2 separate regions of the Homo sapiens genome follow, and region 2 is linked to region 1. The links come from fine-mapping of genetic effects on gene expression. Tissue or cell type: whole blood. Region 1 holds a variant in brackets; the other region holds the start of a gene. Each region is shown on its reference strand, or each on the opposite one. Region 1 holds the start of LOC124900642 (zinc finger protein 141-like). Region 2 holds the start of ITFG1 (integrin alpha FG-GAP repeat containing 1).

What was found. PIP is the estimated chance that this variant, and not a neighbour inherited with it, causes the effect. A credible set is the group of variants that fine-mapping cannot tell apart.
Region 2: ITFG1 starts here. The variant in region 1 is the best candidate, but not a certain one, in a credible set for the expression of ITFG1 in whole blood (TOPMed, PIP 0.56).

What each region holds. Positions count from the first base shown.
Region 1 is chr4:217,868-227,036 of GRCh38, reverse strand. It overlaps LOC124900642 (zinc finger protein 141-like), which reads right to left and starts at 8,481. Exons shown (of 2, transcript XM_047416470.1): 1 at 8,259-8,481; 2 at 7,394-7,743. The coding sequence starts at 8,397. The coding sequence ends at 7,640. It also overlaps the pseudogene ZNF876P. The variant G/C (reference allele first, on the strand shown) is at 4,278.
Region 2 is chr16:47,457,494-47,465,493 of GRCh38, reverse strand. It overlaps ITFG1 (integrin alpha FG-GAP repeat containing 1), which reads left to right and starts at 4,431. Exons shown (of 18, transcript NM_030790.5): 1 at 4,431-4,656; 2 at 6,319-6,391. The coding sequence starts at 4,449. PHKB (phosphorylase kinase regulatory subunit beta) reads right to left here and starts at 4,163. Exons shown (of 31, transcript NM_000293.3): 1 at 4,068-4,163. The coding sequence starts at 4,143. RefSeq lists a silencer at 4,053-4,522.

The DNA of each region.
Region 1 (9,169 bases):
TGGCCAGGCTGGTCTCAAACTCTTGACCTCAGGTGATCTGCCCACCCAGGCCTCCTAAAGTGCTGGGATTACAGGCATGAGCCACCGTGCCCGGCCTAAGGATGCATTTTTGAGACTTTATTTATGTGCAAGAAGCTAGGCACAAAAAGATAAATACTATATAATTCCACTTATGTAAGGTACCTAAAGTAGTTAAACTGCTAGAAACAGAAAGTAGACTAAACTGTGTCAGGGCTAAGTGGAGAAGAAAATGAGTAGTTGTTGTTTCACAGACAACCTGTTAGAACACAAAATAACTCTTACGTTTTAAAACTTTAAGACCTAGATACATGTGCAGGTTTGTTATATAGGTAAACTTGTGTCATGAAGGTTTGTTGTACACATTATTTTGTCATCAAATTATTAAGCCTGGTACGCATTAAAGATTGAATTACACAATGCATCCTTTCATACCACATGGAATCAAACTAGAAATCAAAAGCAGAAGCAAAATTGCCAAATCCAAAAATATGTGAAACTTAACAGACTCTTGAACATACTCTTCTTTGTCAGAAGATTTAATATTTTTAAATGACAATACTACCCACAGTGATATTCAAATTCAATGTAATCCTGATGAAAATCCAAATGATACTTTTTAAAGAAATCTTTTTTAAAATTCTTACATTTACATGGAACATCAAAGGACCACTGTTAGCCTGAACATTCTTAGAAAACAAGAACAAAGTTAGAGGCACAACGCTTCCTTTGTTTAGAACAGATTACAAAGCTACATAAATAAAAACAGTGTGGTACTTGAAAGAAGACAAATAGTGATGGAACAGAACCCAGAACTTAAAGCCAAACCATGTTTGTGTATATGCTCAAATGATCTTCAACAAGGTTGCTGTGACCGCACAACAAGAAAAAGACAGTCTCTTCAATAAATGGTGTTGGAAAACTCTGTAACTACATGGGAAAAACTGAGGTTGGGTCCTACCCGCAAACCATATACAAAAGCTGTCTTGAATGAGTTAAATATTTGAATGTCGGAAATATACCTATACAATCTCTAGAAGAAAATACAGTAAGATTATGACCTTGGTCTCAGCAATGTTTCCTTGCATACAACATCAAATATCTGAGCAACAAATTAAAAAACTCAGAAAAATGGGACTACATTAAATTTATCTTTGCATATTAAAATAAACATTTCGTAAGAGTCCCACCTAAGAAAACAAATTAAAAAGCATATATTTGACAGAAGCTAACATCCAGAATAAACAACTTCAAGAAAATCAACAAATAGTAAGTAACATCATTAACAAATGAACAAGATAAAAATGGTTCTCCAAAGAGGAAATGCACACAGCAAACAATTATTGAAAAATATTTCCAATCTTTAGCAAAATGTAAAGCAAAACCACAATGAGGTATTATTGTGCATTAATTAGTATGGCCAATATCAAGCAAACAATGACAAATGTTGTCATTTGTCATGGAGGAATTGAAACCCTTGTGTACTGTTGGTGGAAATAAACATGATACAACCATCTGAAAAATGTATAAAGGTTCCTCCAGAAATTAAAAATGAAATTATTATATGACCCAGTAATCCCACTCCTTTTTTTTTTTTTTTTGAGACAGAGACTTGCACTGTTGCCCAGGCTGGAGTGCAGTGGCATGATCTCAGCTCACTGCAACCTTCGCCTCCTGGGTTCAAGTGATTCTTGTGGCTCAGCCTCCCAAGTAGCTGGGATTACAGGTGCACACCACCACACCTGGCTAATTTTTGTATTTTTAGTAGAGACAGGGTTTCACCATGTTGGCCAGGCTGGTCTTGAACTCCTGACATTAAGTGATCCACCTGCCTTGGCCTCCCAAAGTGCTGGGATTACAGGGGTGAGCCATGGTGCCCAGCCCCACTTCTGAGCATCTATTCAAAATATGCAAAGTATACCTGAAAGAAATATTTGCATATCCATGTTTACTGCAGCAATATTCACTGTATTAGTTTATTCCTGCATTGCTATAAAGAAATGCCTGAGCCTGGGTAATTTATTTTAAAAAGGAAGTTTCACTGGGTCATGGTTCTGCAGCCTGTACAGAAAGTGCAGCAGCTTCTGCTTCTTGGGAGACCTCAAAAAGCTTCCAATCATAGCAGAAAGCAAAGGGACGGTGAGTCATCTTACATGGTGGGAGCAGGAGTTAGAGAGATTGAGAGAAGAGGTGCCACATACTTTTGAAAAATGAGATCTCAGAACTCACTCACTATGTCAAAGACAGTACCAAAGGGGCTAAGCTAAACCATTCGTGAGAAGCCAACCCTATGACCCAACCACCTCCCACCAGGCCCCACTTCCAACATTAGGGATGGCAATTTGACATGAGATTTGAATGAAAATGCAGATCCAAACCATATCATTTACAAAAGCCAAAAACTGAAAAAACTCAAACATTCTTCAATGGATGAATGATTTAAAAAGATGTGGTTTATACATACAATGAAATATTCTTTAGCCCTCAATGAAAATATCTTGTGAGATGCTACAATAAGAATAAATCTTAAAGCCATTATTTAAAGTGAAATAAGACACCGACAAAGTGACAGTGTATGATTCCACTTTTATACAATATTTTGAGTAGTAAACTAGGAAACAGAAGTAGAAACATGCTTGCCTATGGTTAGGGTTGTGAAACCTCAGTGGAGCCAGAGATCAAGGAGGGTTATTTAGAAAAAGCAGGCCCTCACCCAGGTGGCTAACTCAAGGGCCCACAGACATGGCTACAGACAAGGAAATGGCACATTGAGCCTGGTGTTACTGAAGATTATGAAGCAGTTCTGCAACCTTTCTCAAACTCCTCTCAGCTACAGTCCACAAGTGGTCCTTCTCATTAAGAGACCTGCAGGGAGACACACCCAGCCATAACCCTGGAGGCAGGCTTGTATATCTTGGCCTCAGCTGTGCTCCCTGAAGCAGCCCTGTGACTCAGTTCTAGCCCTCACAGTCACTGTCTGTGGCCAGTTGTACACACTCAGGGACCCACATAGAGACTTGTGAAAACTGTTCCCAGGTAGTCAGTAGAAGCCAAACCCATTCATACACCTGATATTTGGCCCATCATATGCAGACAAACTTCAAACCCTACCCTGCTGCCTGCCATATAATGTCCTCAAGGATATTTAATGTTTCCATGGCCCAGAAAGAATCCATGACTGTCCAAATATCTGGTAACACAACGATCAAAGGCAGACCCCACAGCAGACCCAGCAGCACCCTTGTGACCCAGCTACAATCCTTCTTCTCTGCAACCCCAGAGGTAATCTCATCAGCCTGTGGACCAAACAAATGGGAGATCTTTACCTGTCAAAAATAGTTTATAGAAACTGTAATCATTGTTAGATCCTTCAAATGTACAGACACAGGGCTGCTTCAGAGACTACAGCTGAGGCCAAGATATGCAGGCCTGTCTGCAGGGCCACAGCTTCTATCTTAACATGTTACTGGAAGTTTCTTTCAGAACAATTGGGCGAGGAAAAGGGCAACAAAGCTCTACAGCTTGGAAAAGAAGTAAAAATGTTACTGTTTGTAGATAATATGATCATGCATATATATATAAAACCCTAGAGTAAAACAAGAAAAATTGTTTGAACTAATAAATGCATTCATTAAAGTATCAGGATACATAATCAACATACAAATACTTGTGGGTTTTTTTTTTTTTTTTTGAGACATGGTCTCACTGTGTTGCCCAGACTCATCTCAAACTCCTGTCCTCAAGTCATCCACCTGCCTTGGACTCTGAAAGTGTAGGGATTACAGAAATGAGACACTGCACCTGGCCCAACATACAAATATTTGTTGCATTTCCATACAGTAGCAACAAACTTTCCAAAAAAAGAAACAATTTCTATTTGCAATAGTATAAAAATAAGAAATTTAATTAAAATAAATTTAACCAATGAAGTAAAAAAATTATACATTAAATACAATAAGATTGATGACAAATTGAAGTAGACACAAATAAAGGAAATATATTCCATTAGGATAACTAACACTGTCAAAGTATCATATTATCCAAAATGATCTCTAGATTCGATGTGATCCCTATCAAAGTTTTAGGGGCATTTTTCACAGTAATAGAAAACACAATTGTAAAATTTAAGTGTAAGCTTAAAGAACTTTAAATAACCTGAGCAATCTTGAGAAAGAACAATGCTGGGGCATCATACTCTTTAATTTCAAATTTTATTTAAAGGTTATAGTAATCAAGAGTATTGTATGTGCATAAAAACA[G/C]ATACAAAAGCCAATGGAACAGAATAGGGAGCCCAGAAACAAAACCAGAATACAAGGTAAACTAATCTTTGAAAAGGCCACCAAGAATATACAATGCAGAAAATACAGTCTTGTTGATACATGGTACCAGAAAAACTGGGTATCCACAAGTGAAAGAATAAAAGTAGAATATTTTCTTATACCATACCCCGAAATTAACTCAAAATGAAACACTTAAATGTAAGACATAAAACCTTAAAACTCCTCAAGAAAACATATATAAAAAAAAAAACCTTGTTAATATTGGTCTTGGCAATAGCTTTTTTGATATGACATCAAAAGCACAGCAACAAAAAATACAAACAAATGGGACTGCATCAAATTGAACAGCTTACACACAGCAAAGAAAAAAAATTTTTTAAACCCTACAACATAGGAAATTATTTGCAAGCCATATATCTAATAAGAAGTTCATATCCAAAATGTATAAGACACTTCTGCAATTCAAAGCAAAACAATAATAATAACCCATTCAAAAATAGACAAACCATACATATAAGGGAAATCGGTATGCTGTTGGTGAGATGTAAATAAATAAAGTCGTCATAAAAAACAGTAAAAAATAAAAATGGAAATATCATACAACCCAGCAATACCACTTCTGGGCATCCTACCAAAGGAAATAAAATTTGTACCTTGAAGAAAGATCTTCAGCCCTATGTTCACTGTAGTATTGTTTACAATAGCCAAAATATAGTATGTGTGTGTCTATATACAGACAGTAGAATACTATTCCGCCAGAAGAGAAGGAAATGTAGCCATTTACAACATGGATAGACCTGGAGGACGTTATGCTAAATGAAATAAGCCAAACACAGAAAGACAAAGAAACTCCTTGTTTTAAGTTAGATGAGAAATCTAAAAAAGTACACTCATAGAAGCAGAGTATAAAATGGTGGTTGCTAGTGCCTGAGGGTAGAAATATGAGGAGATGTTCAAAGAGTACAAATTTTTAGTTATAAGTTGAGTAAGTCTGAGAAATCTAATGTAAATTAGCATTAGATTAGCCAAATAGCATTGTGTTTATAGTTAGTAATACTGTAATGTATGCTTACAATTTGCTACTACAGTAGATCTTAAGTGTTCTTACTCCAAAAAAAATTGAGGTACTAGATGTGCTCATCAACTTGACTGTATTTTGTTTCACAGTGTACATGCGTATCAAATCATTACATTGTATACATTAAATATATAGTTATACCATTTTTATTTATCAGAAAAATCCATGTCACACAAACACAGATGTACAGTAAGTACTCAATGTTCAAAATAGGTTCTTGAAAACTGCGTCTTTAAATAAAACAATGTCGGTATATGACATTCAAACATAACCTTGTTTCTATCAATTCAACTATAGTAATTCTGCCTCTGGGTTTAAGCGATTCTCCTGCCTCAGCCTCCTGAGTAGCTGGGATTACAGGTGCATGCCACCACACCCGGCTAATTTTTTGTATCTTTAGTACAGATGGGGTTTCACCATGTTGGCCACGCTGGTCTCAAACTCCTAACCTCATGATCCACCCACCTCGGTCTCCCAAAGTTCTGGGATTACAGGTGTGAGCCACCGTGCTGAGCCAAAATTAGTTTTCTTAAACAATATATTGCTTCACTTACAGTTTCCATGAAACTATCAACAATGTTAAGTGAGAATTTACAATACACATATATAACTTATATGGGTGGGTGTATGTGTGAGACCCACATTTTTATATAGATATCAATAGATCTCAATGATGAAACCCCAGTAGGCTTCTTTTTTTTTTTTTTTTTTTTTTTTTGAGACGGAGTCTCACTCTGTTGCCCAGGCTGGAGTGCAATGGCGCCATCTCGGCTCACTGCAACCTCGGCCTCCCGGGTTCAGCGATTCTCCCACCTCAGCCTCCCGAGTAGCTGGGATTACAGGTGCCTGCCACCACGCCCAGCTAATTTTTGCAATTTTAGTAGAGATGGGGTTTTGCCATGTTGGCCAGGCTGGTCTTGAACTCCTGACCTCAGGTGATCCACCCACTTCAGCCTCCCAAAGTGCTGGGATTACAGGCGTGAGCGACTGCGCCTGGCCCCCAGTAGGCTTCTTACTAAAAGTATAAGATAATAGTTATTAAGAAATAATAATATACACTTAGCAGTGTTCTAAGCTAGTTAATGACAGTGCATTTAAGAAATCTTGAAGGTGAGTAGATACTTTAATCAAGTGGTGCCCAATGCTATGAATGTAAGAACATTTCACTTATCTGTTGCAGTAGCTATCATAAAAATTATTTATGAAATTTTTTTTAAAGTTCATCAGTTATCATTAGTGTTAGTGTATTTTATGTGTGGCCCAAGATAATTCTGCTTCCAATGTGGCCCAGGGAAGCCAAAAGGTTGGAAAACCATGCTTTAAACTATATTATAATTTGAAAATTTACACATCTAGAGTTTAAATTACAAATCTCAGTTTATACTAAATCAATAACATTTTGAAGTACAATCAACAATACATTTTTCATATTTAGGAAAATGCTTATCATTCTTATAAAATTGCTAAGAAAGAATTTTTGTAGAATTACATTTGCAACAGGATTAAAAATCACTAAGCAGAAAAGGTGCAACATCTGTCCCTAGTGTTCCTGGGATTTCTGAACCAAATTCCAATATGTCCACTACTTGCCTTACATATTTAGGCATGATACAAAATCAATATTTGAAAAAAATACGTTAACATAGAGCTCCTCAATAACACAATTATTCCTATATTTCCAAAAGCAATGGAACAGCAGTGAGATCATGCAGCCCCTTATAAGTGATAAAGTAGACATTGGCTATCCCTGTAAACTTGAAGGGAGATCTCTAAAGAAAAAAGAGGGCTGGGTGTAGTGGCTCATGCCTGTAATCCCTGCATTTTGGGAGGCCGAGGCAGGTGGATCACCTAAAGTCAGGAGTTTGAGACCAGCCTGGCCAACATGGCAAAACCCTGTCTCTACTAAAAATACAAAAATTAGCTAGGTGTATTGGCAGATGCCTGTAATCCCAGTCACCCAGGAGGCTGAGGCAGGAGAATTGCTGGAACCTGGGAGGCACAGGCTGCAGTGAGCTGAGATCACACCACTGTACTCCAGTCTGGGTGACAGAGCAAGACTCCATCTCAAAAAAAAGAAAAAAGAGAATTTTTAGAAGATTTAACAGCATGGGGCTGAAGATGCCCCTATTTGTGAACATGAGAAAAAATGCAGCCTTTTCAGAAATTATTTGCATTGAAGAAGTGCTTTCCAAAGTACATTTTAAGGCCTGACTTCCTTCATCACCTTTGGTCCCCTTGCCTGTGTCCTCTCCTTCATTCACTCTCACCTACCTGGGGCTTTGGCTACTGTCTCATGTGTCTTCCCATTAAAGGGCTCTTTTCTTTGCTCCAAACAGGTGATCAGGTCTGAGTTAAAGAGAGCAACACCTGTTTTATTTAAAAAATAAGATAAAATAACGTGACTACTGCTGAAGATTCTCCAATTACCAACCTAGTACTATGCTAAGAAGAAAAGAGAAATTATGGAAGATTCTAAAAAATTAATCCAAAAATTGTTTCCTGATAGGCTCTTTAGAATATTTAAGTGTTTCAAATCTGTGGGTTCTAAGTTCCACTACCCAGTACTACTGAATAAAAAAAATTGGTAAATTGGTACAAATTGGATTTTAAGATGTGGAAAACGATATTTTACAACACTGAATTTATAAAATTACCACTAATCTAGAGTGAAGGACAAAAATTCCCTCAATAAAAGAGAAGGTTTAGGTAAAGATGAAACATCTTAAAGATTTTTTTTACACCAGCAGACTCCCAATTTTTTCATGAAGAAACAAGGTGAAATTAATTCACGCAAAGCAGAAGCTCCCAAGAAACATTCTACAAAGGAAAAAAAATAAAACTCTGAGGGAATATTAGGAATTACACATGAAAGTTATCCTCACCCAGGGAGACCAGGTTTCTATAGTTCTCCAACATCACATCTCTATATACATTCTGCTGGGCAGGATCCAGACATTTCCACTCTTCTGGGGAGAATTCTATGGCCACATCCCTGAATGTTAAGAGTTCCTGAAAACACATATTTATCAAGTGACAGAGTTCTTTTTTTTGAGACAGAGTCTTGCTCTGTCACCCAGGCTGGAGTGCAGTGGTGCCATCTCAGCTCACTGCAAGCTCTGCCTCTCAGGTTCATGCCATTCTCCTGCCTCTGCCTCCCAAGTAGCTGGGACTACAGTTGCCTGCCACCATGCCTGGCTAATTTTTTTTTTTTTTTGTATTTTTAGTAGAGATGGGGTTTCACTGTGTTAGCCAGAATGGTCTCGATCTCCTGACCTCGTGATCCATCCTCCTCAGCCTCCCAAAGTGCTGGGATTACAGGCATGAGCCACCACACCCGGCCAGTGACAGAGTTCTTAAATTGACTACAGGAGAAATGAGTTAAGGGAGCTAGTTCTGACTGTAATTATCTGATAAAATAACTTTCAACACAGTCATGTTCTCTAAAGTATTCTATAACTCTTAGGAAAAATGATGGCACGCGAGCAATTACTGTTGCTGCAATGGAAATATGGGCTACACTGACCTGCTGCTACCAAAACCAAGCAGAGTAGACCCTGTGACTTCCTGGAACAAAGGGTAAACTCACCACTCATTAAAGTATCTGGAAGCCCTCATGCTTGACCCTGCCCTCACTGTAGAATCATGTTTTAGTTTAAAAAACAGGGATGTTTCCACCCAGAACAATAGACAGGATCTGTGGGGAGGGAACAAGTGACTGTTTCTCTTCAAACAGTCCATGTGATACTATTAGAAGACTCAGCTGAGAGTCACTTAGCTAAGCACTGGCTTTCAA
Region 2 (8,000 bases), not on the chromosome of region 1:
TGCATTCTATTTCAATTTGATGATACAGTACAGGAAAAGCGTCTTGTATATACCTTCAAACACTCTATGTAATGTTAAAGCACAGTTCTTGGGTTTAGAAATTTTCAGGACTGTTGATGCATAAAAGCTATCTTTAAACATTCTATTTCCCCATTACTACTGAATGACTGTGCTAGTGCTTAAAACCACTTTCCTTCTTAGTAGAAAAGCCAAGATGGAAAACAGAGCTTGGTGCTTATAAGGAAAGAAAACAGAGTCTAGAGATATATGTCCTCCTGTTCTTTTAGTTCAAAGATAAAATCAGAAATCAATTGGCATTGTTACATGTAATATTTTGTCATTTAGCAGATGACACCTAGAAATAGAAATCATTTTAGTTCCTTAAAGAGTTTTTGTTTTCTCCTGTTTGATTCTTCCTTAAGTTATTTCTTATTTATTTTCTTTAAGATTTTCCTCCTCTATCTTGCCAGAACAGGACTTGAAATATAAACGAAAATGAATGAAGAGGGAGAAACACTTCTGAAAGGCTATGGTGAAGCCAAGGAGTTTTCACTGTGTTTGGGGGTGCTCATCTCACATTTGCCTGTTCATGAGTCCTGAGGCTTGAAATATTCTGCTTAAGAGGCATTATAGAAAAGGTAATCTCTTACCAGCAGGCTTCTCCGAGTTTTCTAGTACATAATAGGTTTTAAATGGCCCAAGTTAGGCCACAACTACAGAAAAGGGCTGTAAATGCTTCAGTTTTCATTTCAGCTATGTGGCCACCTAACTAAATGTGTGGCTTGTTCTGTAAAGTGACACTGAATACATCCAAAGGCCTGGTTGCTAATGGGAATGCATAGGTAATCATGTCTGGGTCCATGAATCACCCAGAAATTGTTTCCAAAATCCTGTGCACACGTCTGAAGAGCAATTCCATAGCTTTCATCCAGCTCTCAAAGGGGTGCATCAACACAACGGTCTAAGAGCCATTGTGCCAACATCTGTTCCAGCCCTTACACCAGGATGCCACAGGATAAAGGCCAAAGCACATGGCCTCAAAATATTCCCTGGGGCAAGTCGCTTCCTGTCTGTGAAAACGTGTATATTAATAACCTGCTTCACAGTAAGCTGATGAAGAACAGATAAGTGGGATGTTGACCAAAATTTCCTAATTTGTAGAAGTTACTTCCATTGTGGCAAGAAGACAAAAATCATTTAAGAAATATGCTATGTGCACATTTGACAATGGGAGCTCCCAGACACTAAGGAACTGCCTCTGCTTGCAAATATCGGGGCAGGCACTCCACTCTCTGTTCTTTTCACATCCCACATGAGAAGAACACAATAGGCCACATTCAAAACACAATGCAAAGTTAAACAAAACACCAGCCGGGTACTCAGGCCTGGGCCCACCAAAGAAGAAATAAAGACATAATGATATCTTATAGTGAAATCAACCTTCAGAAACAAAGGTATTTAAAATTACCAAGTGACCCTTTTGGGGTCTACAACACTTACCAGACCTTAAGAAAGCGGAAGACGGAGAGACGACTGCATCAGGTGAGCAGGCCATTTCAAATTGTTGGCTCTAATCATAAGCGTCGCAGGCTAAGCTATAGCAATTTTAAAACTGTTTAGTAAAGGTTAGAAGCAATCAGTGTTAAATTAATTGAAAGCAGTGTGAGCAGTTATTAACATGATGCAGTATGCAACAAAGGCAGTAACTGAGGATCATTATAATTTTATTTTCTCTTTTATGACTTGAAAATGTGATTTTCTTTGCTTTGATAAATTACACTTGCTCATATGGATGAGATAGAAACTATATAATATCCACTTATTAGACATTACATAAAAGTAGTATCCTCTGTTGTGCAGTGAAGTAATTATGCTACTATGTAACAATGCTCAGAACTCTGTGGGGAGGACTCTATACTGGAGTCAGGTTAGTCAAGTGTTTAACAAAGCTCCATTTATATATTCTTCTAAAAGTAACAAACAGAATCAAGTTGATTGCTTTTAATGATACAGGAAGTTATTAACTCGAGTTATTAACTTTATCCTCTGTACTTCATATACTTACAAGAATCTGAAACCTCAAATTTAACTATTAATTTGGAGGAATAACTTCAAGTGGTATCTCTTTACTACTATGATGTAAACATACAGGAACATTCAACATTGATACTATGCACTTTGCACATAAAAGTGGATTTAAATAACTGCACTCAACAACAGTTAACACTAGAATTTTTTTTCTCAGCTAAGAAAAGAGAATTAAGGTTTTCAAAGCTTACTGTTATGACATGCATTTCAGAGGAAACAAAGACTGACGAAGAAAATCAACTCTATGAGCTTATGAAAGTTAAAGAGAAATGTTGCAAAAATATATGTTGGGGGCAGTACTCAGGTCCCTGTAAGAAAACTCCAGTTATTCTCTTTGTTCAGACATAACCAATCCAATAACACTTTTTATATCCAGATAGCCACATCGTTAGTAGCCAACTCAGTATTTCTATATCACACAAAAACAATTTAAGAAAAAGTGTGAAACAAATACATGTGACTATTCCAAGTCACTTTATTGATTCTTAGTAGTACTAAGGACTACTTTTTGAAAAAATTATCTCATACTTCATAGATGGTAATTTTACTATAACCCTAAGTATATAAAGCTGAACTTTTTGTAAGGTATAAAAAAACAGAGTGTTCGGTGTATGATTTCTGAAATTAGATTTTCAGAAATTAGATTTACTTTCTCCAAAAAAAAAAAAAAAAAAGTCAGTGTGCACAACAGACAACTAAGAACTTCATAAATAGGAAAAGCCCAAAACGTAAGGAGAACATATTAGGTGAGAAAATAATTTTTTTTTTTTTTGAGACGGAGTCTCACTCTGTCGCCCACGCTGGAGTGCAGTGGTGCGACCTCCACTCACTGCAGCCTCCGCCTCCCAGGTTCAAGCAATTCTTCTGCCTCAGACTCCCGAGTAGCTGGGGTTACAGGCGCCCGCCACCACGCCCAGGTAATTTTTGTATTTTTAGTAGAGATGGGGTTTTACCAGGTTGGCCAGGCTGGTCTCGAACTCCTGACCTCAGGTGATCCGCCCGCCTCGGCCTCCCAAAGTGCTGGGATTACAGGCGTGAGCCACCGCGCCCGTCCGAAAATAATTTCTTAATATCAATGCAAGTGCAAAGTTAATTTTCCTAGCTAACACCTTTCACACCCACCCCCAATAATGACACTTCATCAATTCTTTAAAAGGGAAGCTCCTTAGCTGAAAACCTGCATTCCGCCTTTCACCTTTCCTGTTTAAGTGCATGCCTTTTGTTCAAGATTATATCCAGCCAACCAGGAATACAGGAAGTTTTAATAACGCCACAAGTCATGACGTTGCAATTTGAACAAGTCAGTTCGGGACACTTGGAACTGTTAAAACTGCCTGCAAGGCACCTTCTGACCTCTATGCTTTCGGGTTTGGAAACCACACAACCTGGGGCCACTTAAGAAGCCCTTTTCTTTCTGGGCCCTAACTATACTCTTCAATATCTGAGGCCCAGTCTCCTTCAGTTTCTGCTAGATAGATGACAGGTCTACTGCTTAGAACCTGTGGGGAATGTAAAAGGGATATAAGACATAAAGCAAGGAGCCCAGACGCCGGCTTTCTGCAGCCAGATCGTAGTTACATCTGACTTGGTCTGATTAAGCTATCTGACTTTTGCAGAGAACATTCACAGGAAAGACACATTCACAGGGAAGACACATTCCCTTTCCCAGGAATGTGCCGCCGCCCGATTTTTAAGTTAGAAGACTCTAAGGGAAGTCCGGACCGCTGCCTACTTTCCGAGTGGGGCTCACAAGCGGAATAGAGTCGGGGGCACACGCAGAGTGGAGCTGGCTCTGCCACCTAATTTTTAGAGGTGGAGGAAGATATTAGAAACAAGGCCAGGGCCGCCACCTGCTTTCTAAGGAGGAACTCGGGGCACAGGTTCATTCCCAGGGCCCCCACCTGCCTCCCGCCAAGGCGCTTGAGGCGAAGCACCACCCAAGGTACTCGGGTGGGGGGCGGCGCCCCAGCCAGCCAAACCTGAGCGCTTGGTCCGAGCTCTTCGCTCCAAGACCTTCCAGCTCACTTCTGCCGTGAGTCCCGCCGCCCCCGCCATCGCGCTCCGGTCGCCGCCTTGGCCACCGCCCCCGGGGCCGCCTGTCAGCAATGCCGGGCCACGCCCCCCGCACGACACTGTCGGGAGGCGCGCCTGCCGGAAGTGAGCGTGAGGGCGGCTTTCACCCTAGCTCCACTGCTTTTTTAGCGTCGGAAGGGCAGCCCTAGTGGGAGAGAGAAAAAGGAGCCGGCAGCGGCTCTTACGCGTCCCGGGGCTGCGCGCCACTCTCTCGGCCGGTAACGCGGTGCTTTGCGGCTGTCGTCAAGCGCGGCGTTGGGCCGGCGGGCGGGGGCTGAGGGGCTGCCATGGCGGCGGCGGGCCGGCTCCCGAGCTCCTGGGCCCTCTTCTCGCCGCTCCTCGCAGGGCTTGCACTACTGGGAGTCGGGCCGGTCCCAGCGCGGGCGCTGCACAACGTCACGGCCGAGCTCTTTGGGGCCGAGGCCTGGGGCACCCTTGCGGCTTTCGGGGACCTCAACTCCGACAAGCAGACGGATCTCTTCGTGCTGCGGGAAAGTCAGTGCTTGCCGGGCCCTCCCTCTGTTCGCTGTCCGTGTGCCTCTCCCGGTGTTCCCCAAACCCATTGCCCAATGGCCGGTCCTTCTGCATTTCCTGGTCCTTCTCTCCCAGCCCTGTGGCCTTCCCTTTAGCATTCTTAACAGCTTGTCCTTTTGCACCACCCTTTCCAACCCCAGGTTCTGACCCAGCTACCCTACAGTTTGACCTACCCTCAAAAGCCCTGACAGCACCTCAGTTTTGTTCCTAAGAAGTCTGCGGCCCTCACCCAGTCACCTTACCCCCTCCTCCCCATGGAATCACCTGTTTTCCAAAGTGCTTCCTGATTCCTAGGAATCTTTGTAGCTTGCCTCAACGTTCGCTCCCAAGGCCCACTCATTCCTTTCTATTTTGCTTCAGTCTTCCTTCCCCGTTGATGAACATGAAAAGGTGCAACCTGACAATCTCTTCTCATAGGGGGCTTCTTCTTGCCTCCCCACCTACCTAATTCGCCCACCCCTTTCTTTGTCAAGGCCACAACTTTCTATGAAGCGAATGTACCCTTCCAAGGGCCTAAACACTAAACAGCTCACACAAGCATTTTGCAGGGACCACTGATAAACCCAATGCCTCCTTGGGAAAGCAGTCTCAAACTACAGAAATTTCTCTCTTGAGCTGCCTGTTCTTTCGTGTACTCCTTCCTCATCTTGGTCATCACCTTAGTGTTCCAAATGTCTACTTTCTTTGCTAACTTGTTCTTGGAAATTCTTTGCTTTGACAATCGTTAAACTAACTTTTTTGTAAATCTTGATGCTGACAGTGGGCATTAGGGGGTCTTAGGGTTCTTGAGTACCTACAGAAGCAGGTGCTGCTTAAAGATCAATGCTGTGAAGGAAGGAAGGAAGAGCTACTCAGAGCTTGCCTGACAGGATCCTGAACCAGACTTCTTGGAGCCCTTGCGGGGATGCAGGAACCTCTTACAAACCCTGAATATTTTCCCAATCTTTTTGACTCCTCATTTTGCAGTGTACTGCCAAACCTGTTGCTGCTGTGTCCAAACTGGATACAGAGAGTAGCCTTGACTTTAAAGATGGCCTGTGTTTGATTAAACAATTCCAAAAGTCTGTCTCAATGAGTGCTAATTGAGCTCCAAGAATGTGTCACCCTCTGGAGGATGGCCCCATAGGAGGAGGGTCTTGGAGGATTCAGCATTTTGTGCTCACATGCTTAATTATGTCTTTGTCAGATATCTACAATGGGAGTCCCTGCATCCTTGGTGTGATGCATCTGTGTAATGAACCAAACAGCCTTACAAGGGACAGCATTGCTAGATTCGGGGAAGACAAGTCTTGACATGTAGTATAGTTATAAGGCATCTTTATATGGTTCTTTTAAGTCAACCAATCTGACTCCTCGCAGAATCCACTGGCTTCAGTTTCTCTTGATCAGCTGCTTTTTCCCATGTTCATCCTTTCTATTTCTCTGCTACTTTGAACATTGAACTTGTGATATAATGTTAGGCATCTCCATTGGACTAGTGGGACTATGCTTGAGAGGGCAGATGAACTGGAGTAGAATAAAAGTTTTCTTGTTGAGAACAGTGCCCAGAAACCTTCTTGTAACCACTGATTAGATATCTTATCAACAAACATTTTTCTAATATCATATATTTGTTTTCTTTAGGAAATGACTTAATCGTCTTTTTGGCAGACCAGAATGCACCCTATTTTAAACCCAAAGTAAAGGTATCTTTCAAGTAAGTACAAATATGATTATTTTGATAAAACTTTAGTCATTAATATAATAATGGATATGCAGTAGCTGATTGGTTGTCTTTAAAGTCAGCCTTAGTGTTGGGATGCAAAACCACTGTTTGTGAGGTATGAGTAGCAAGTGATTTTTTGGAAAAATAGTGAAAATACCAAAGTTTAAAAATGACTTTAAAGAAATAAATTTGAGTGGATCCAGGTTTGTTTCTATATAAACACCCTTTATTTCCTTGCAATCTCGTATCCCTCGTATCCCTTCTTGAATGTGTCTCGTTCTGTGCCTCATCTTGAGGCAGCAGTCACTCACAGTAGTCTCATTGTATTAGCCATGTGTTGTGTTTTGTGGAAGAGGGGCCTATTTTGCAGTGGGGAAAAAGTCAGTGTTCTAATTTTTTTGTTTAATTGACTGATGGTGAGTTTTTAAGGTTGACTTGGAAGGAATTCAAGTTTAATTATCTGAATTTTTAAAATGTTCAAGTAATAGTTATTTTTCTTTTCTGTGGTTGGCATTGCATGAAACAATGACCACTCCCACACCTCTACCTCCATGATAGTGACCCAACACAGTTTTGAAACTACATTCATTTGAAGCAAGCATTCGTGGCTGTCTGAATTCAAGCAAGAAGAGATGGGTCAGTGCAGGCCAAAGGGGCAGCTTCCAGAGTCATGGAACTTGAGCTTGACCTTAGTATAAATAAAAAGTTAGGTGAAGACGTTCAACTTGGAAGTTCAATTTTGGGGACAGAGCATTTATAAGAGATAAAAGTAAGAACAGCATGTTATGAAGAGGAGGTAGAAAGATCTGCCTGACAAAAGTGGAAGGTACACTTCGGGGAGTTAAGGACTAAGAACATGAGATAAGAAGGGCAGACTGGGAGCCTTCAGATACAAAAAAGAGTTTGAATGCTGTCCCATTAGAAGAGGGGAATCATCAGGTCCTTGTGCAAAGGAGAGATGATGAAAACAGTATTTTAAATTGATTTACTTGTAAACTATATGCAGAATGAATTGGTTTGTAGAAGATTAAAGACTACTTAGGAAGCTGTATTTAAAAAGTCCCTGTGTGGGCTGATTAGTTCTCAGACTCTACAGTATTTTGAGTAAACTCAAACTCATGTTAAAAAGAAAAATGGCCTTGAACTAGAACTTTGAGGGGAAAGTTATAAATGGATAAACAGGAACTTATTTCCCTTGAGAAGTGTTTTTGGGTAGTGAATGTCAGCATGCTTGGAGTGGGGAAGAAACTGAAGTTGAGTGTATATGAGAAGTGAACTAACTGCATAGAGGTGATTTTTTTTTTATTAGAAATTAAGGAAATTTAAAAGATGTAAATGGCATGTGTTCTGATAAGTTAAAACAAATATCCCAATTAATTTTTTTATTAATGCAATGCACTTTCAAAATTTAGAAACTCTTGTTTGTGTTATAATTTAAAATATTTTTCAAAGTAAAAATAACTATTCTTCACCCTTATTCTCCCCCACACCCCTGTTTCTCTCTCAGATGCAACCACTTTTAAAACCTGTAGCTGATTCTTCTAGTGTTTATTACCATATTTTAAAATAAAATTTTACACTAATTTTCTTGAATTATCAT